Homo sapiens: one gene and its partners. The protein of the gene in region 1 interacts with the protein of each later gene in a pairwise test. Each region holds a gene or a part of one and is shown on either strand. Other genes may lie near its edges.

Region 1 (7,579 bases):
ATCCCTCCCCAAACTTTACTCTTTCGGAGGAGTAGCAGCACTGCCCTCCTGGGAGTGGCTGAGGGACCCACTCACACATAGCACCACATAAAGCCTCACTTACTACTGGTGCTCTCAACCCCAAAATTTGCAAGGCAAAGTCTGAAAACCTCGGGAAGTTGCTTGATTTTTTTCCTCTTAGATATTAGTTTACAATAAAGTTACATGCTCACACTGACTAGGAGTTGAAAATGGATTACTAAGCTCTTACCCACTGTGTTCTTTCTGCTTCCTGCTTCCTGGCATAGACTGGAAATCACTCACGCTGCTTTACAAACACATGTACCTTATTCTGCATTAAAAGGGCTAATTTAGGCTCCAAAACTGTCAGAATTTACCCTAATTGGGCCTCTTATGCATGTATATGTAACACATTGTCCAAAAGTTTCCCAGAGAGGATAGTACACACTAAAACTCATAATGGAAAGTGAATCAGGCCGGGTGTGGTGGCTCACACCTATAATCCCAGCACTTTGGGAGGCAGAGGTGGATGGATCACCTGAGGTCAGGAGTTCGAGACCAGCCTGGCCAACATGGTGAAACCCTGTCTCTACTAAAAATACAAAAATTAGCTGGGTGTGGTGGCACACATCTGTAATCCTAGCTACTTGGGAGGGTGAGGCAGGAGAATCCCTTGAACCTGGGATGTGGAGTTGCAGTGAGCCGAGATGTTGCCACTGCCCTCCAGCCTGGGTGAAGAGTGAGACTCCGTCAAAAGAAAAAAAAAAAAGAAGAGAAAAGAAAAGAAAAGAGAGAATCAGAGCCAGGCAAGGTGGCTCACGTCTATAATCCCAGCAGCACTTTGAGGCACAGGCGGGCAGATCACCTGAGGTCAGGAGTTGGAGACCAGCCTGGCCAATATGGTGAAACCCTGTCTCTACTAAAAACACAAAAATTAGCTGGGCTTGGGGATGTGTGCCTGTAATCCCAGCTTCTCAAGAGGCTGAGGCACGAGAATAGCTTGAACCTGGGAGGCAGAGATTGTAGTAAGCCGAAATTGTGCCTCTGCACTCCAGCCTGGGTGACAGAGTGAGACTCCGTCTCAAAAAAAAAAAAAAAAAAAGAAAGAAAGAAAGTGAATCAATAAATATATAAGTTTATATAAGGGGACAAAATTCAAAATCCTAGCAAGTGCTCCAAAGCATTTAGCTCTTACTACTCTTTTTGCACTTCTGACATTAGTCTAATTATTTGTCTCCTCAACCTCGAGTTGTTTTTTTCATCTTTGCAACCTCAGCCCCCAACAATTAACATGAGGCATTCAATAGAGTAATAAATTCCAACAAATCTCTGACCTGCTGAGTCTCTGACAGCTCTAGTAGCTTAGCAGTCACAGAAATACCTGAACAGCTTGAAGGTCAAGATTCTGCATTTCCAAACACCACGGTCACCTTAAGATCTAACCTCCACGTCTGGTCCCCTGCAGGAAACAGATATTTGATCTACCCCTTATTCTAAGTTGAAACGTCAGGGACAAATCCACCATCCAAATTAAGGGTTGATCTAATCCACAAACAATCTTTGTGAAGATTTGTCCTTATGATTAAAAAGGAGATCCAGGGTTACAAGAAAAGGATCTGAAATGCTGCTTTCAGATCTCTCCTTTTATAGACACTTGGCAACATTCCTGGAAGCTCAAGTTCCCTTTAAAATGTGTCACGTGTATAACATGTGTGCCTGGACAGAAGTGTGAGGTAAAAGCCCAACCAGAGGCTTAAATACAATAAAGTGATAAGGTCACAGAAAGAAAACCTTGAGTAATCCCCGTTAGAATTATAAATACATTACTAGCTTTTCTCCGAAGTCATTTTCTTTTGGCCTGCATATTCAGGGATACCATTCTGGGAGAATGTCTGGGTATCTTAACAGTGGAAAAACCCTGTCTACCTAAATGTCTAATATTCATCTTCCCTTCCACATTCATTCCATTTCTCCAACTTGGCTGAAAATTCGTGTCAAAGATCCTGAACCCCAATTCCATACAATTTCCTATGTTTTAGACCAGTTTGGCTCTATTTTCACCTTTCAAAGGGGAGATGAGCTTAGAGAACTTTCTCCGATCCCCTGCTGCAATTAGTTCACAGTAACAGTGCCCACCTACCCATTCGCACCAGCCCACGTTGCATCTGTGCCAGGCAGCATGTGCACCCTCCAGGCATCCACCAGCCTGCCAGCTCAGCAGGGCAAAACTGGGCAGACCCTAGTACTGTGCTGTGACTGGCATACCACCAGCCTTCCAGGGCAAACGCCCAGGCAATGCATACTGCCAGGACTTGAGCAATAACAGGGAGCCTAGCTCCAGCCTGTGACCTGGGCCGGGATCAGAGCTCCCCCGAACCCACCCACTAACCACTTAACTCCTTACTTGGCACTGCCCACCTTCTCCCCAGAAACACTACCCCCGACACCAAGCCTGGCAAGCTGGCCACTCAGGGGAAACAACCAGCAACGAGGGTGACGGCAGGTCTCTGGAAAAGGCAGCACACCTGTGCCCTGGAGCCAGAACAGGGTACCACCCCCGACCTCAAACCGGAAGCCCAGGACCCTCGCCCAGTTACTAGTTCTGGCGCCCACTCACCTGCCCATTGCTTGGCCCTCAGCTCCCAGCCGGGCTGGACTCCAAGCTCTCTCCCCGCCCAGCCGGCTGGCGGTTGCGCCCAGGGCTAGACCAGGGCCCACCTGCCCCTCACACAAGCCTCCTCCCCACACGCAGCCCCCTCCTCACCCGCGATTCCCTCTCCCACGCCCCTCACAGCAAACCAAAGCCCTGCTCCCACCATTTGGCTCTCCGTCCTCCGAAAGTCCCGGTTTGCCCCTCTTGCCTACTCGCTCCTCTTCCTCTCTCCCCTACTTCCACCTCCTTTCCCCACGCTCCTCGCCCAATCCCTCTCCCGCCGTCATCCCTGCTCCCCTCCTCCCGGACCGAGCCCTCCCTTTCTCACCTAGGGCCGGGGTCGCAGCTCCACGACCGGCCTGTGGGTCAGGTGGCGCATGCGCGAGCACGGCCCCGCGGCACCATGACAACCTCGTCGTCGCTGGGTGTCTCGCTATCCCCACAGCCTCCCGCCCATTTCTCCTCCCCACGCCTCCGCGACGGCTTTCGCCAGCCACGTGACCCGACTCGGATGACCCGGCACCATGGAGACCGCACGCTGTTCTCCTAGAAGGGCCCTTGGAAATGCGCCCTTTCCCCGCCCCCGCCGGAAGACCAGGCCGGCGCGGGGCGGGGCCAGCGCTCAGAGGCCTACGCTCTGTCCGCGGCCGGCGGGCGTCTCTATGGTTGGTTCCTCAGGCCTCGCCGCCATTTTGTACGGGGGCCTTGAGCAATGAGCGGCTTGGGCAAGGTTTCCAGGCGGGGTTCAGAGGAGCCGGGGGTGGGGCCGGCTTGGAGTCGATACAGAGAGAGGAGCGACTCTCGCACTGTCTTGGTGCGTGCCGCCGTGCCGCCGTGCCGCCGTTGGGGGTGGGGGCCGGGGCGAGTCGTGTCCGGCCTGTGCGCGTGCCGGGAGCGACAGTGCCCGGCGTGGGAGAGCGGGCGTGCGGGCGGCCTCAGCCTGGAGTCGCCGTGACAGGGGTGCCAGACCTCCCCGCGTGCTCCTCGCATTTTCTCTACGCCTGTCGCCCTGTTTGTTTTTTGTTCCCGTCCACCCTCGAGACCGTGCTTCACGAGGTCGAGGCGCGATGAGTTATTTTAAGTAGATGATTTCATGACCTTTGATGTTTGACTGACTTTGTCATGTGCTATGGGTTTTATATGGATGCTGTTTCTTGGTGAAGGTTCACGGTGAACACACGTGTGTAACAGCTAAAGAAAAAAAGGGCTTGGGATCAGTTGACGTTCTGATGCCTTGAATCAGTGAAGGTTACTTAGAAAAAGAATTATTTCGCTAGTGAAAAAGAGGACATGGGCGAGTTTAAAGAGTTGACGGGTCGAGGCAGATTCAAGAGCTGAGCTGTCCAGTAAGATGGTCACTAACGACTGGATAAGTTTCTCAGTTGTACTAGCCACATTTCAGGAGCTCAGTGACCTCTTTATTGGACAGTGCAGATTATATATAGCCCATTCCCAGCATCGCAGAAAGTTATATTGGACAGTGCTGATTTAGATAGTGGGGAATTGTTTTATACTGGTCATCCAGGCCTTTGTAAGTGCTGCTAGGTCGTGGTTAATCACGTTAGTCCTCTAGACACAGGTAATTCTAATGTATTACTGGGTATGGGTGTACTTGTTAGTAGTCAGCTTTACCAACAAGTAATATGCCTACACCATGTAAGGCTTTTGTTTTGGGGACAGAGTGAAAGCAATAGTTAACAATTACCAAGTAATTAGGAGCCGGGCCGCTTTATATGCATCCTTTTATGATTCCTTACAAGTTTATGACGCAGGTGGTATTTTTTTCCAGTTGTGTGGCGTTTTTGCCCATTAGGACTCAACTAAAAACCCATGGCTTTGGCCAGGCACAGTGGCTGACGCCTGTAATCCCAGCACTTTGGGAGGCCGAGGCGGGCGGATCACCTGAGGTCAGGAGTTCAAGATCAGCCTGGGCAACACGGTGAAACCCCGTCTCTACTAAAAATACAAAATTAGCTGGGCGTGGTGGCACATGCCTGTAATCCTCGGGAGGCTGAGGCAGGATAATCGCTTGAACCTGGGAGGCGGAGGATGCGGTGAGCCGAGATCGTGCCATTGCACTCCAGCCTGGGCAACAAATCTCCGTCTCACCAAAACAAACAAACGAAAACCGTGGCTTTTATCCATGAAGCTATTAATATATTGCCTTCTTTTGAAGTGGAATAAAACAATCTGCCTTCAGATAACTTAAAATCTGATATGGGAAATAAGACGCGCTGTAATAAATAATATGAAAGAGAATGGGATAAGTACCAGAAGATTGTGAACAAAACCTAATTAATAAAATAAAGGGAGAAAAAAAAACTTTGTTTTTTTTTGGTTGTTGGAGTAGGAAGAGATCAGTAGGTAAATCTTTAAGGATAGCTAAAAGTTGGATTTGCAGTAATGGAAGTGGGTGAGAGTACGACGCACACAAAGCAAAAAAAGAATCAATGAAATAAGCAAAAGCATGAGGTGTGGTCCTATCTTAGTTTTCCGAAGGGGCAAATAAATAAACTATGAGAGGAATGAATTAATGGCATTTGCAGCAACCTGGATGAGATTGGAGACTTATATTCTAAGTGAAGTAACTAAGGAATAGAAACCCAAACATCGTATGTTCTCACTCATAAGTGGGAGTTAAGCTATGAGGATGTAAAGGCATAAGGATGATACAGTGGACTTTGGGGACTCAAGGGGAAAGGGTGGGAAGGGGGTGAGGGATAAAAGACTACAAATTGGGTGCAGTGTATACTGCTCAGGTGATGGGTTCACCAAAATCTCACAAATCACCGCTTAAGAACTTACTCATATAACCAAAATGCCACCTGTTCCCCAAAAACCTATGGAAATAAAAAATTTAAAAAACAGCAGCATGGATACTAGGCTTAATACCTGGGTAACGAAATCATCTGTACAACAAACCGCCATGACACAAGTTTACCTATGTAACGAATCTGCACACGTATCCCTGAACTTAAATAAAAAACAAAACAAAAATAAAATTCAAAAAAAAAAAGAATAAAAGTCTGCCTTCAAATAACTTACAATCTGATATGGGAAATAAGACATGATGTAATAAGCAATATGAAAGAGAATGGGATAACTACCAAAAGATTCTGAACAAAACAATAACATTAAGGGAGAAAAAAAAAACTTTCTTTTTCGGTTGTTGGAGTAGAAAGAGACCAGCAGGTAAAGCTTTAAAGACAGCTTGAAAGTTGGGTTTGCAATAATGGAAGCAGGTGAGGGGATAATGCATACCAAGCAAAAAAGAATCAGTGAAATATGCGAAAGCATGAGGCCCTCTTAGTCCTCCGAAGGGGCAAATAAACCAAACTTCCTTGACTTTACCTACATCTTGAGCAGACAGCCATGCTGTACCAATAACTTAAGCTTCAGACAAGTATTGTAATGGAACCAAATGAATCAAGACTAATGATAGGCATAATTTTTATGATTATTTTATGCTATGATTCTATATAATTAGATATACAGAATAAGCAATTCATGAAGATTGATAGTGAATATTTTTATGTAGCTAAACCACCGTAAACGTTTTTCTTCCTTTCCTATTAATTTACCAAGATTTGTAAATCAGCATCTATTGATAGTTTACTGGTGCCACGAATTCTTTAACCTTCACTCACTTTACTCTCTTTACTCTTGGTTGGAGTAAGGACCCTATGATGGATGGGGTAAGGACCCTGTGATGGATAGTGGGTTCTGAAGCACCTATTCTTCTTGCTGTAGGGTCCTTTCCAATTCAAGTTCTCCCCAGTACCATTGTGGTCTAGGTTCGGTTTCCTACCACCACAACCAGCAGGGGGAGACATGCGCCCTTAAATCCTACATTTAGGGACTTGCGAATGTTTCTTTTTTTTTCCCATCTACTTCTTGAAATTGTAACCTGCCTATCCGTGTGAGGATTTGAGTTTTTAACCCTGCCTAGGATACCATGAAGAGTCAGCCATGGGCCGAGTTTTATTTGAAGATATTTTAAGTGTATTATGTTATACAATTTAAAATATTTATAAACGATTGTTTAATAATTGTTGAATTTAAAATTAAAGTCATTTAAAAATATTTAAAAGTGGGCCAGGCGCAGTGGCTCACACCTGTAATCCCAGCACTTTGGGAGGCCAAGGCGGGCAGATCACTAGGTCAGGAGTTCAAGACCAGCCTGGCCAACGTGGTGAAACCCCGTCTCTACTGAAAATACAAAAATTAGCTGGGCATGGTGGCATGCGCCTTTAATCCCAGCCACTCAGGGGGCTGAGGCAGGAGAATTGCTTGAATCCAGGAGGCGGAGGCTGCAGTGAGCTGAAATTGTGCCACTGCACTCCAGCCTGGGTGACAGAGCGAGACTCCGTCTCAAAAAAAAAAAAAAAAAAAATTTAGAAGTAATTAAAATAGTGTAATAGGAGACGGTGAAAGTCAGTGATCTAGTTTCAAATTCCAGCTCCTATCAATATCATTTTACAAAAGAAGGGTCATTTTGATATCTTTTCCGTATACACAGAAGGGAAGATAGGACATAACCTCACAATTTAAAAATAGAATAATTTCGGGTGTATGAAAAACTTAAAGCTTTTAGTCTTATTTTTCCAGTTTGGCTGAAGACTGGTGAAAACATCACCACAAGGACTGGCAACAGTTCTTGGACTGGTGTTTGGGAACCATTGATTTCATTTTCCTGAACCTCAGTTTGGCCGTCTGTAAAATAGTTATCCTGTAGTTTGAATCTAGCATCTAGCATTATTGGTGCTGATCACTTCATAAGTCTTTAAATAGGATTTGATGGAGTGGTAAGTGTGTCTCATGGGTCAGTGAGAGAAGAGAGGGGCTCCAGCCTGTGTGGGCAGGGGGATCTACAGGTGCCAGATGGCAGAGGCAGAGGCCAGTGATAGTGGGATGTATGACCTTTTT
Region 2 (7,106 bases), on another chromosome or scaffold:
GCGTGGGGATTACCTTGCCTTACCAGTTCCCTTCCTCTATCCAAAATTATTTTGAATATATAAATGCAACTGAATCCTAAGAAATTTATTCTATCATGGAACAGTCAGCTGAATAAAAACTAAATAAAAAAAGAAGTACAAAAAAAAGAAAAAAAATTTATTCTATCTGCATTTGACCTTAGTTTAGTTTAATGCCCAAGAAACGAGACCATAATCCCTGAAAATAAAGGGGTAAAAGAGAACCTGCTCTTCTGAATGCCATCAAATTCATAAAACAATCTTACAAATCACTTTTACTACATTCCAATGTACCTTCGACAATCTGCATTTTACAAATGTATAGATGAATATTACAGTAAAATGTTAACTTTAAGGGGAAAACATCCCAATAAAAAGGCTCTTGGTTTCACTGACCTGTGATCGCCTTCACCACCATATCAGACACTTCTGGGATGTCTTCATTAACAGGGACACACAGCATCTGAGGCGTAACCCAGCGCAGGGCTCTAAAGAGAGAGAGACAGTAAACAAGAGCTCCAAGGATAAACTGTGGCCATTTGTCTTGTCACCTCCTTCAGTTTAGGGAAAGCCTGAGGCATCACTGACCACTCAATCCCAGGCCCACACACATCACCCCTGCAAGTACTACGAGCTCTAATGACGTGATGAAGCAGCTAGGATCCTAAAATGAGACTTCTGCATTTATCACAAGAATGGAAGGCCATCTTGCTGACTGAAATGACATTACGCAGTGCTACCAAGACTGAAATGCACTCAGTATCTGAAAGTGACCATTTGAGAATTGGCTGCTGCCTGTCCTCGCTGCCTACTGCGTTAATGTCCTTTTACACTCAGTCCTCAACTTCTTTCTTTTTTGAGATGGAGTCTCACTCTTGCCCAGGCTGGAGTGCCAATCTTGGCTCACTGCAGCCTCTGCATCCTGGGTTCAAGCAATTCTCCTGCCTCAGGCTCCCAAGCAGCCGGGACTACAGGCGCCCACCTCCATGCCCAGCTAATTTCTGTACTTTTACGAGACAGGGTTTCACCCTGCTGGCCAGGCTGGTCTCAAACTCCTGACCTCAGGTGATCTGCCTGCCTTGGCCTCCCAAAGTGCTGGGATTACAGGTGCGAGCCACCACACCTGGCCTCAACCCTCAACTTCTGAGGCACACTGGAGCTTGTATAGGAGGCCACGGGCAGGACCACCATGCCTGAATCACTGTGTGTTTCCTGGTCCCACCCTAACTGCACTCCAACTACCCTGCAGCAGGCCTGCCCTCTTGCTTGGTTACTGCTTCTGTTCTGCATCTTGGTCCAGGGCCCCTCTAGTTACTTCTGGCTCCTGACCTTGGGCTCCACATCTTCAGCCTGCCCAGTATCAACTCCTCACTTCAGCTATGAAACTTCCAATACAGATCTAGCAAGTACCAGCCCCTTGTCTGGAACCTGGGACTCCGAGTCCCTTCTCCCCTTAAAACACCTCATCAGCTCAGCCTTGGCCCTGTTCCCACACTTGGGTGGTCTCTTCCTCAGTGTCCACCGCAACTGGAGTACACAGTGCTGGGGCTCACCCCAGTGAGCCTGGAAGACTGGGTGCTGTGGGAAATGTCATCAATCCAATGCCAGTGAAAGATGTGACTAGGGAATGCTGAAAAATGCACACCCCTGGGAGGAATGAGGAAAGAGGACATCTACTGACTTGTTATTTTTTTGAGAAGGAGTCTTGCTCTGTTGCCCAGGCTGGAGTGTGGTAGCATGATCTCAGCTCACTGCAACCTCTGCCACCTGGATTCAAGCCATTCTCGTGCCTTAGCCTCCCAAGTAGCTGGGATCACAGGCGTGCGCCACCATGCCTGGCTAATTTTTGTATTTTTAGTAGAGACGGGGTTTTACCACGTTGCCTGGGCTACTCTTGAACTCCTGGCCTCAAGTGATCCTCCCAAAGTGCTGGGATTACAGGTATGAGCCACCGGGCCCAGCCGACATCCCCTGCCTTGATACCGATATTCACAGCTTCCCACTTGAGGAGATGGTAATGGACCAAGAACACAGTCCCCCTATTCCTTGGAGATTTCAGGGATTGAAAACAATCTCAAACACCAAACACAACTCTTACCAAAAGCTGCCTTGAGGGAGATGGATAGGTGAGGTCACCACATTCCTCGTCTTTCTTACACAACAGAGCTGCTTCCACTCTAAGGAAGCAGGAACATGAGCTATTGCTTTCCCTTAAGGTTTGAAACACAGGTGCATTATTTTCCCCCCAGTGTGTTCTTCCATTAGAAGGTAGTAACTACAAAGCAAAACAAAATAAGCAACTACCTGATTCTCTTTTGAATGGCAAGATCTTTCTTCTCATCATCAGTAGTTTCTGGACAGAATACATATTTATAGAGACGAGTCATGATGTACTTTTCAATCTGATCCATTATCTTCTCGACTCTTTCTGGAGGCACTGAAATAACCAGACAGAGAAAAGATCAAGATATATATATTTTTTCTCTCTCTTTTTTTTTTTTTTTGCAAACAAAGAGTCTGGCTCTGTCGCCCAGGTTGGAGTGCAGCAGCATGACCTTGGCTCACTGAAACCTCCACCTCCTGGGCTCGAGCCATTCTCCTACCTCAGCCTCCCAAGTAGCTGGGATCACAGGCACACGCCACCATGCCTGAATAATTTTTGTAGGTTTTTTCTGTGGAGATGGGGTTTTACCATGTTGCCCAGGCTGGTCTCGAACTCCTGGGCTCAAGCAATCTACCTGCCTCAGCCTCCCAAAGTACTAGGTTTATAGGTGTGAGCCAGAATGCCCGGCCAAGAGTATATTTTCATAGCACTGTCTACACAGCAAAAAACTAATTTACTAGAAATAAATTAAACACACTCAGAACAAAAGTATAAGAATGTTATATTTAAAAATACGCTTAAAAAAAAAACTTACCAGCTGGGTGCGGTGGCTCTACTCCTGTATTCCCAGCACTTTGGGAGGCTGAGGCAGGTGGATCGCCTGAGGTCAGGAGTTCAAGACCAGCCTGGCCAACATGGTGAAATCTCCTCTCTAATAAAAATACAAAAATTAGCTGGGTGTGGTGGCACGCACCTGTAATCCCAGCCACTCGGGGGCTGAGACAGGAGAATCACTTGAACCTGGGAGGCAGAGTTGCAGTGAGCCGAGGTCACACCACTGTACTCCAGCTTGGACGACAGAGTGATATTCTGTCTCGACAAAAACAAACAAACAAACAAACAAAAAAATCTTCTTCCAACTGTTGGGCTGCCTTCCACAGCAACCTCAGTTCTAACTGAAGTTGTCTGACAGGACCTAACAGTGTACACCCTGCCAAATGGGGAGACTTCAGCAAGGTCACTCCCTGTCCTACATTACAAAGGCATTTGCAACTCCCAAGACTGATGAATGCTGATGAAACTTATCCTTTCATTTTTCTGAGGTTTACCATAACATCGTAGAGCTCTCTGAGGTATACAAATGGAGATTTCTCTGACACACACATGTGCTAAGTATATCCTAAAGTCTAGTATCAGTGAAGGTTGAATCCATAAAGAATCCCTAAAAACTTGAAGCTCTTTTTTTTTTAAACTATTAATACAATAACTCACCAAAATGGTGATTCCAAGATGGAAAATTCATTTAGCAAAGCCTTCCAATAAGTTTTTCTCTTTCTCTCTCTCTTTTTTGAAGACAGAGTCTCGATCTGTTGCCCAGGCTGGAGTGCAGTGGCACAGTCTCAGCTCACTGCAACCTCCGCCTTCCGGGTTCAAGCAATTCTTGTGCCTCGGCCTCCCGAGTAGCTGGGATAAGAGGTGCACCACAACACCCGGCTACTTTTTGTATTTTTAATAGAGGCGGGGTTTCACCATGTTGGCCAGGCTGGTCTCGAACTCCTGGCCTAACGTGATCCGCCTGCTTTAGCCTCCCAAAGTGCTGGGATTACAGGCATGAGCTACTGAGCCAGGCCCTAAGATGTTTTCGTCAGCTCCAGCCCTGCCCCAATGGAGTTATTAAATGTTACTCAATAAATTATCCAATTGCTCCTGGAAAGATACGCATGGTACAGTTCAAAGGCACTGCTAAGTATAAGACCAGTTCCCAGAATGTCCATGAGGTTACAGGATGAAGTCTACAAACCAGCCAGACCATCAGAGAAAGAAAGAAATTGCTAAGAGACTGAGCAGTCATCCCTGTGCAATACCCGCAATCTCTCAATGGCTAACAGTGTTACCTTTCCCACGAGTTTGCATCCTTTCGGCCACATTGTGGTAGAAATCCTGAGCACACTCTGACTGTTCTTCAATGCTTAGATCCTGAAACAGAGAGACAAAGAGGCTGCTTGTAGCTGAACAAAGTGCAGAAGCACAGCTCTACATTCTAAGAACTTTCCAAAAGCCATTCCTTGTACTGGTAGTAAGCCTAAAAGTACTCACAGGTTATATTAATCCTGCAGGAGAGTAAAACCTATCCATTAATATTATTTCCAATATCCATTGTTGCCGGACTTTTCCTTAGTTCAGCTAAAGACGGGATCCTTGTCCGTCTCACAGCCACAAAAATTTAGGCTCGCAGGCGGTTTGAATGGTGGGTAAGACAGGGTTTTATTAGGTGAAAAGGAAGAAAAGGGGGAATCCGAGACACTCACAAGGCCAGAGTCCCTGCTAGAGTGCTTCCTGCCAGCAGCTAGAATCCTGGGCTCCACACAGAAAGAAGAGGGGCCAGGCTCCTCCCTGCTACAAATGGTGCAAACTTCCCAAAACTCCACCCCGGTGGGCAGGCTGGCTGGAGTTTTTCCGGGGACCCCTTCCCACCTAGCGGTCTCACCATGACCATCTCATTCTTTTTGCTAAATCTACGTATTCTTAAATAGATTTAATGCATGTTTTGATAATTTACATATTTTATGTACATTTCTATTTATCTAATCCACTGAATCATTTCTGGTGGCTTTATAACACTGCATTATATTAACTGACTTCTTCGACTCTCCTCTACCACTGTGCATTTGAGTTGCTCCCCCTCTTTCACTGTTGTGCACTGTAGGTATAAATAATTTTGTAAGGACTATCTTCTTTTCGGTTCTCTGTCATACATTTCCAAAAGTGGCATTAACCGCTTAATATGAATAAACAATGTTATAGCACTAAGTATCTATTGCTAGCCACACTCCTCAGAAACTCAGTGCACACTGTCATTAACCACGTGTATGCACTTACTTCCCTATGGCCCTTACAACATTGGGCTTGATAATTTTTATTTGGTTTTACTGATTTTATAGGTGTAATATATGTATTTGTTTCTCACTTTCTGCCAAAGAATATTTAAAGGCTATTTAAAAGATAAATGCAGTTCAGCACAAGAGACTAGAAAATAAAAAGAATAACAAATAACTGTAATCCCAGTGCTCTGGGAGGTTGAGGCTAGAGGATCGATTGAGCCTAGGAGTTTGAGGCCAGCCTGGGCAACATAGTGAGACCCCATCTCAAGAAAGAAAAGAAAAGAGAAGAGGAAAGAAAGAAAGGGGAGAGAAAGGAGAGAAAGGAAAGAAAGAGAAAGAAAGAAATTAAAAAATTTTTTTAACAATAATAAGTAAAAAAAAAAAAAAAAAAAAAAAAATTAAACATGGAGAGAGACCTAAAGCAGAGCCACAGATGACAAGACAGAAATGTTTTCCTGGAAGATGTCTAAATTAGTCAAGAGTCAGCCCATACATCTGTCTCTAACTAAATTTTTTAGCAACCATCACTAGGATGAAAACAGTTATGTAATTCAGGGTTCAAAAGATGAAAGCAAACAAATTATTCGGGTGAAATTCTGACACCAAAATCAAAAATTTCTCCCAACGGTTCTCATAAGGATGTCACAGTAGAAGAACATGAATAAGGCCGAGAACAAACCCCCAGGACGGGCTGTCACAGACTTCATCTACACAGGCCACTGACCTCACACGCCAAGGGCCGATACATCCTGTGGAAGCCCACAGCAGTCTGACCATCTGGCTTAACTCTAAAAGGATGGCAGGACACTTGGGGTCAGGAGCAGTCACCTCATTCCCTCAGTAAAAATGGCCAAGCACTCATGGCACTTTGTGATCACCTTGACTGCAGCCCTTGTTACTGTCAACTAGTTACCCATATACATGCACACACTGCAGTGCTCAAATCTATCCTTCTACTTCAAGTATTTTATGCAAAAGCTTATCCATTCAATCTTTTTAGGTAGTTTACACATGGTTTTACACCTTTCATTTGCACCAAATTTTAGCACTTAACTTAGAAGAAACTATATTCATTCTTGTGATTATTACTACAGATTTGAGCATTCCTAACCCAAAAATAAAAAATCTGAAATGCTCAAAAATCCCAAATTTGTCAGTGTCGACATGACACCACAAGTGGGAAATTCCACACCTGGCCTCATGTGATGATGGGCTAGAGTCAAAAAGCAGCCAAAACTGTTACATGCACAAAACTGCTTAAAATGTGGTATAAAATTACCTTCAGGCTATGTATGTAAGGCATATATTCAACAAATGAATTCTGTGTTTGGACTTGGGTCCCAGTCCCAAGTTATCTTATATATGTGTAAATATTCCAAAATCTGGGAAAACCCCAAAATCTGAAACACTTCTGGTCCCAAGGCTCTCGGATAAGGGATACTCAACCTGTAGTGCTCGCTTCCAACTAGAAACTCTCTGAGCTCCTTTTAGAGACCCGAGAGGCCTGTCTTACTGGTGTCAAGGGATCATATTCTCCTCCCCCAGCCCAGCACAACCCCTGTAATTTTACAATACAATGCCGAAAACTCCTTTTCTATTTCTACTGCAGTTTATGCTCCAGTACAGTATTGCTTTCATAATGTAAAAGAACTCACCCCTGCCACTGTCTCTCATCCTGCTTTCCATTCTTGTAGGACTTAACACTATGTTACAGATCTGCTTATTGTCCATTTCCCCAACTAAAATGTTAGCTCCACAAGGGCACTGTTCACCACCATATCCTCATGCCTAGAACAAGGCCAGGCACAGGGTTAGTGCTCAGTATGGGTTGAATGAATAAATGTGGCCATTTATTACCATTCCTCCCTTTATAAGATGCTGAA
Region 3 (7,106 bases), on another chromosome or scaffold:
CCCTCGTCTGGACCCCTCAATTCCCTCAGGCGCATGTTTGATTGATACGGGGTACTGGTGGAAACCCCTCCCTCATCTCTACCACCCTCTCCACCTCCCCAGCTGCTCACCTATCTCTGTCAGGGAGGCATAGGGTGCCTCCGGTGTGCTGCGGAAACTGGGGCTGCCGTAGCTGTCTGGGCCCTGTCCCAGTTCCCCAAGCCCAGGATGCCTGTGTTCCTCAAAACGAAGTCCACATCGGTCAGGGGTCAGCTGGCTGCCTGTGCTATAGAAGCTCTCTCTGCCCTCAGCCTTGCCCCGCTCAGGGCTGTATTCAAGGTGGCATGAGGCCCCATTGAGCCCTGCCTTGGCCAAGTTGTTGGAATATGAGGGCCCAGAGCCTGAGGCTTTCAGGAGGCCAGGGGGACAGGCAGAAGCCTCAGGCAGGTCAGGCGAGGAGCCCAGGGGCAGCTGCCCGTCTGGGAGCCCCAAGGTGTAGGTGAGGGTATCTGCTCCTTGGGCCCCTGCTGGAGGGGTCTTGACCACTGGTTCCTGTTGCTGCTGTTGCCGCTGCTGCAGCTGTTTCTGCACTTCTGCATGCAGGCTGTCCCTCTGCTTCTTGGACATGCGGCCGAACTTGACAGCTGAAAGAGGTCCAGGGACCAGGGGTTTATGAGGCAGGAGAACATGGCACAGGGCAGGGTCAGGAGGCATTTGGTCATTAAAGGATTAACTTGCTGCTCTCTGAATGGCTGACTCCAAGCACAGCTTCTCTAGCCTTTAGGGAACTTATGCTCAAGACCCCGTCCACCTCTCACTCTTGTTTGCTTCTGGGGTCTGTCCAGTCTGCCATTTCAATCTGCTAAGCAAAATCTTCTAAGTTCTAAATCAGATTTGAATCATGGCAGAATTCAAGCAATGAGTCTAGGCTGGGGATTCTGGCCTCCAGATCTTGGGGCTGGGGGTGGTCGAGCAGAGGGCCTCAAGCTGTATTGGGGTCACCTCGCCTCTTTGGGAGGGTCGGAGGAAGAGGAGAGCTGAGAACACAGGTCTCCCTGTGGTCAGGCCTGCAGGCTCCCTGGTGACCTAGATACTCACCACAGCCCAACCCGGGCTCCGCGGCTTGTTTCTGAACATCCTCTTCTGCTCTCTCTTTCCTGCCTTTTTACTCCCCCCGCCACCCCTCCCAGGTGTAGGGGCACAGCCCCTCGCCCCGCCTGCCCCTTTGCACCCCTGCGTGCTTCCTTTTGCTTTGTTATTTTGGGCACTGAAAAGTGCTGACGGGCTCCTTCTGGCTCCTCATCACCTCATGCCCCCCCAGCTCCACCCTAGGCTCCTTCTGTGGTGGTGGAGGTGTGCAGGGAGACTGGTGAGGAGGTGGTGGGTGAGGAGGGTGGATAAGGCACCAGGAACACCAGCCCTCCCCCACGACCACCCTCTGGTTGTTCTCAGGCCAATTCTGTTTCCATTCCTGGCTATAGTCCTGTGTCCAAGTATGGGAATGGGGGATTAGAAAAGGAGATAGAGCTAGAACTACAACAACAGGGTAGCAGGGGAAGGTGCCAGAGCTGCATGGGAGCTGGGCCAGAGGGCAGCAGAGTGAGGAGAATTCGTTCCAAGTAAGAAGAGATGAAGAGGTATGGGACCTTGGAAAGAGGATGTTTGTTCTAGCAAAGCCTAAAGTTGGGGACTCCAAAGAACTTTGATGGGGGTGACCCATCCATCCCTGGAGGGGAGGAGACAAGGGGTTGTAACGGGGAGGAATGGAGAGGAGACCAGAGGATGGGCCGTCTTGCAGGTTAAGCCTTGTCTAGCTCAGCAGGCCAGGCTGCCCCTCTGGAGACACCAGGAAAACCCCAGGGGGCTGTCGACTTGGCCTCACCATCTCGGGACATGCCCAGCGCCAGGCATTTCTGCAGGCGGCAGTGCTGGCATCGGTTTCGGCTGGTGCGGTCGATGGGGCAGTTCTGCTGACGGGTGCAGGAGTAGGCCGCGTTACAGCGCTGGCTCCGGCGGAAGAAGCCCTGGGGAAAGCAGGTGGAGGGCAAGACTGCTTATCCTGGTCAGGCCCAGCTCACTCACAAAGGCCTCCAGCCCACAAGCTCTGGCAGCTTTTCTACATCCCACGACCTGTCAGTTTTCTCTCTCCTCCATCTATTTGTGTAATTGCAATTTATCCTGTAGTCATTTCCCCAGCTTAAGACAGGGCCCTGCCAGTGTTGAGGGCCCTGCAGGAAGGCGCTACTCAGGCATTTTCCTGGCTGCCCAGGAGATCATCCCTGGAGTCAGAACAAAGGCCATTAACCCCCTTGTTTATCTCTAAGGAGACACTGTGTGTGTGTGTGTGTGTGCGCGCGCGCGCGCTTGTGTATGCACACGCACACATGCATGCATACACATGCCTATGACTCACCTTGCACCCCTCACAGGTGATAACCCCGTAGTGGATCCCAGACGACTTGTCCCCACAGATTTTGCAAGGGATCACTTCAATTTGTGCTGGAAGAGAGAAAGAGAAGTAGGTCAGCCCAGGAGGCTTTTCTGCATTCAACCACCATGTACCTGGGCTGCAGATACAGGTACCTGGTGCTTCCACTACTTCTCCAACCAGCTCCAGCTTGCTGTTTCCCTCTTGCAAAATGGAAGGGGAAGTGAAATGCCAAATGCTTCTCAGCAAAGGGTGTGAGGAAGCTGTGTTTGTTTCACAGAGGAGGGGAGTGTGGAGGGGTGGCCGGGAGTTGTATCAGTGCTATGGAGGCAGAGAAAGCAGCTGCAGAGGGGCCACCTGCTCAGCCCTTCGAGTTGAAAAGCTCCAGTTGCCTCCCTCCCGCCTTGGGACATAGGACTCCTCACGGCCTCACAACACCTGCTTCCCGCCGAAGGGGCTTCCTCTGTGCCTCCCTCCCTCGCTGGGGCTCAGCTCCCATGGGCAAAGTGTAGGGTATAGCAGGAAGATGTGGTACACAAGGGGTGGGGGATAGGCAGAGATGCCAGTCCTTCCCAGCCAGACAGTGAAGGCTCAGGGAGGTGCTATACAGAGACAGGGTGAGGGGGTGGCAGGGAGGAACCCAGGAAACGGGGGCTCAACACCCCAGCTCTGCTGGATGCCTGAGAGCCTAGGGAAAGAATTAGCCAGGGCTCTTAGGCTCTTGGCCCCAGAGCAGAGAGAGGGTGGCTTTGTGTACATCCGTGTGTCTGAGTGTGAACACTTATGTTTGTACAAAGGCATCTGTATCCATTTGTGTGAACATGAATCATCAATGTTAAAAATGGCTGAGACTAGAGACCATCTCATTCAACCTCTTCATTTACCGATGAAGGACTAAGCCAGATGAGGCAAAGCGGTTGGGCCAGGGTCATAGGCTAGTTTGCCTGAGAGCTGGATCTACATCCCAGTTCCCCTGAGCTTTCCATTATGCTGTTCTGTGTACCTGTCTTTTCGGGTACACATTTCAGTGGGCATGTTTGAAGGTGTGCTTGTGGGTGTGCATATGCAAGAAAAGTATGTGTCATTTGTGAGCCTACGACATATCTGGTTGCTCCTGCGTCCACACGTGCATATTTGTATGTTAGTGTCTGCTCATGGGGCACTAGGACCCCGGGTTCTCTCTCCCACTGAACTCACTGTAACCTGTACCTGCTTCCCTACCCCTGTGGTTTGCTGCTGGCCCTAAGCTCATCTCTGCTTTGCCCTGTTCCTGTCAATGCCCACGACTCTCTGCTGAGCTTCATGGGACCACAGGAGGCCTTCTCCCAGCTCTTCCTTGAAAGGTAGCTGGGCAAAGCTTGGGATCCCTGGTTACTGTAGGTGTTTTTAGCATTTCCCAGAGCACATGGGTCTCTTTTCCACCATCACTGACCTGCTGCCTCCCCTCTGAGTGGGGAGCCCTGGGGCGGGACAGGCCAGAAAAGTGAAGAGAAGGGCCAAAGCCCCTTTTAATCTATGACGTGTCTCCCACCAAAGGGGCAAAAGAAGTGGCAGCCTCTCTGGAGGGCGAATGCACATTGCTGTGATCTCACCTCCAGTCCCTGGCCTGGACACTGGTCACATGTAGGGCCTGTTGATGTGAAGTGGGCAGGGAGACCATGGCTTGCCCGCCATTCCCCAAAATATTATTTCCATCATTCTTAAACCATCATCCCTCAGGCCAGACTTGAGGTGAGTCAGAGGCAGTAGCTGACCCTGACGGGGACAGGGCACATGGGTATCTGAAATCCCTTCATTAGCACTCAATTCCTCACCCAACCCCCAGCCACACGTGCCTGCCCAGCAGCAAGCTTCCAGTGCTCACACTGTAAGCTGTGGTCCCCCCAGGACCAGGCGGTAAGTGAGTTTTCCAGGTTCTTTCCAGTAAATTAAGAGCAGATTTTAATACATGGAGGGGAAGAGAGAATAAGAGGGCACTGGGTGTCTGGAACAGGGGCAGAAAACGTTGGGGCCCCCATACTTCTAGTCACTTAGATTCTCCCTCTAGACCTACGTTTTCTTGTCAGCAAGATCAGGATAAAAGTATTATTGCCTGTCCATGGGGTGATTGTAGGTAACAGAGAGTAATGAAATGATATCACCAATGGAAAGCACTGTGTATTCAAGTTACTCCTGAGCAGAGGTCAGGCTGAGAAGACCAGTGGGCCTGGCAAGGCTGAGAGGAGCACTCGGGCCCTGTGGACTCTGTTCTTGCCCAACACCTCCCCCTCCAACACTGTGGCATCTCTCTTTTCAGTGGCCTAAGACCAGAGATGGGAGAAACCAACGTGGGCCACCCAAAAAAGTAAGCGGGAGGGAGATTAGGCCAAGCCGCAGTGGGAACTCGGGCTCTGGCCCAGCAGTCAACCACAGGCCTCCCTGCCTCTTCCCTTCTCCAAGAGCCACATCCGCGTGCGTGTGTGTGCTGACCACATGGTGACCCCAGACACATCTCCCTGCCCCATGCTTGACCCACTGCTTCTCCTGGCCCTAGGAACCTCACAACAGTGTCACCAAGACCTTGACCTTCTCATAGGAAGATGCGGCCAGTCAAGGACCCCCTTCGCAAATACCCATGTTTGGGCGACACCAAAGCCTTGGACTCCAGCCACCTGGTCAGCCCATCCTCCATCCTCCCAGTCCAAGACAGAAGTACCCAGTGAGACAGACACACAAGGCCAAAGACTCTGAGCTAGAATGTCAGACCCCCTAGCCTCACTGAGCTGGAGAGACCAAGAGGTTTGGGTCCAGGAAAAACAGAGACATAGATCTAGGGATGGAGAGACGGCTGCGGAAACACTGAAACACAGAAAATCCACGCTTGTATCCTGGCCTTTGCCCAACCCATGGCCCCCTCAGCACTTCAGGCCCTCTAGTCCTGCTCCCCCCTCCTTCCCCTGCCACCTGCACTCCCTTCAATGCCATCCACCCAAACCTCAGAAAGAAAGTACCAGTGCTGTGTACATGAGGGTGTGTGTTACTTGTAGAGAAGGGGTGGGGGAGAACGGGAAGGGGGCTGGTAGACTTGGGGGTTGGTGAGAGGAGCTGAAAACACCTCTGATGATAACTCACCTTCAAAAGCTACCCCTGGGAGACACGTCCCTGAAGCAGCAGGTGGTGGGAACTCAGATTGGGGAGAAGGAGCTGAGTAATCACAGGATTACTCAAACTGTTGCCCTGGAGCCAGGCCTGCCAGGAACTTACCATCTAAGGGCCTGCCAGTGCCAGGAACTAGAGCCAAGCAAAGGTCAGGAACCTCGAACCAGCCCCTGCACCACTGCTCCCATGGCAGCCCTAACTCTACCCTCGCCTGCTGTCTTGGAAAGATCTTTGCATCTCACCTGCAGCTCTCTCACTGTAGCTCTCTCCTGAGAGAGAGCTTTCTCCAAAAGAAAACTCCAATTCCACATCTTCCAAAAGGAGAGACAAATGCCCAAATGCACCCGCCAGCTCCTTAAGTCATCTAATGACTGAATGACTATGGCTTTCTGCATCTCAAACAAGATTACCTGGGGATCTGAGGTGGGACTCAAGATTCTGCACTTTGGTCAGCTCTTAGTTGGTGCCTAAGCTTACTGGTCTTCAGCTTATACTTTGAGTAGCAAGAACTTAGTCCCTATTCCTGCCTTTTTGCCAGGCTGCTCCTTCCAGGGAGTGGGGCTGGGGTTGGCGATCTTTTCCTGAGCTCATTCTTGCATCTTTTCTGCCATCCAGTGTGACCTCTAAGACTTCATTCTGAGACAATACTAGAAAAAGAAACTGAATCTCCTCTGAATTGCTTTAGAGACTGAAGTACCCCCAGGAGCATCCTAGTAGCTCCTCCTATGAGGGGAAATACGGTAGAGGCAAAGTCCTCCATCCTCCTCTAATCGAGCCTCTCACAGCTGTGAGATTCAATGATAGTGCTTTGAGTACTTCCAGAGCCTGGCCCTGTGCCAGCTTAGGAAGCCAACCCTGGGCCCTGTCCAGGTGCCCTATGCCACAGAGAGGAAGTGGTAGGAGCAGGGGAGGGGCTGCAACCCAGGGGGATCTCTCCTCTCAAACCCCAGAACCACCACCCCCCCACCATCATGGTAGAGAATGGGTTCACACAGAGAAACCCCGGGGTCCTCATCTCCTCCTGGTGCCTCGTCAATCTAGAGCTGGGCCTTTTCCTCTCCTCTTTCTCTCTCCTTTTTCTCCAGTGGATACTGATTAAGGAGAAAGGATAATGATAGACATAAGCATTGGCTGAATTCTTACTCTGTGCCAGGCTTTACATGCATTTTCATTCAATGATCACAACCACCCTGTGAAATAGGCCCTGCTAGTATCATCCTCATCTTACAGATGAGAAAACTGAGGCCTAGAGAGAATAAACAGCTTGACTAAGGTCACACAGCCAGAAGTGGCAGATCTGGCATTTGAACCTAGATCTCTGTAATTCTGCAGCCAGTGCCCTCAAGCCTTAAGCTATATACTTTATGAGGATAAGACGCCCAAATGCACACCGGAGACCTGGGTAGAGGACATGGTTATTTGGCTGTAGGGGTAAAAGTGTGAGGTGATTGTGGTGGTCTAGGAACAGAATTCACAGAGGAAACCCACAGAACTAAAGCCAGGACTCCTGTTTGTATAAAGATCCCAAGAGATATTATTCCCTCTGTCCCAACTCTTCCTC

The links.
Region 2: the proteins of CIPC (region 1) and RABGEF1 interact in binary tests that used the Homo sapiens proteins (3 or more experiments, as listed by UniProt).
Region 3: the proteins of CIPC (region 1) and RORC interact in a two-hybrid assay, tested with the Homo sapiens proteins (one study listed by BioGRID).

What each region holds. Positions count from the first base shown.
Region 1 is NC_000014.9:77,093,764-77,101,342, reverse strand, and holds the start of CIPC (CLOCK-interacting pacemaker), read right to left. Parts: upstream 3,086-7,579; 5' UTR 2,982-3,085; intron 1-2,981.
Region 2 is NC_000007.14:66,792,723-66,799,828, reverse strand, and holds part of RABGEF1 (rab5 GDP/GTP exchange factor), read right to left. Parts: intron 4,319-7,106; coding exon 4,237-4,318; intron 3,212-4,236; exon of another isoform or gene 3,096-3,211; intron 3,054-3,095; coding exon of another isoform or gene 2,937-3,053; intron 2,456-2,936; coding exon 2,323-2,455; intron 507-2,322; coding exon 415-506; intron 1-414. UniProt on the Homo sapiens protein: Rab effector protein acting as linker between gamma-adaptin, RAB4A or RAB5A. Involved in endocytic membrane fusion and membrane trafficking of recycling endosomes. Stimulates nucleotide exchange on RAB5A. Can act as a ubiquitin ligase.
Region 3 is NC_000001.11:151,814,803-151,821,908, forward strand, and holds part of RORC (nuclear receptor ROR-gamma), read right to left. Parts: intron 2,479-7,106; coding exon 2,393-2,478; intron 2,004-2,392; coding exon 1,862-2,003; intron 624-1,861; coding exon 111-623; intron 1-110. UniProt on the Homo sapiens protein: Nuclear receptor that binds DNA as a monomer to ROR response elements (RORE) containing a single core motif half-site 5'-AGGTCA-3' preceded by a short A-T-rich sequence.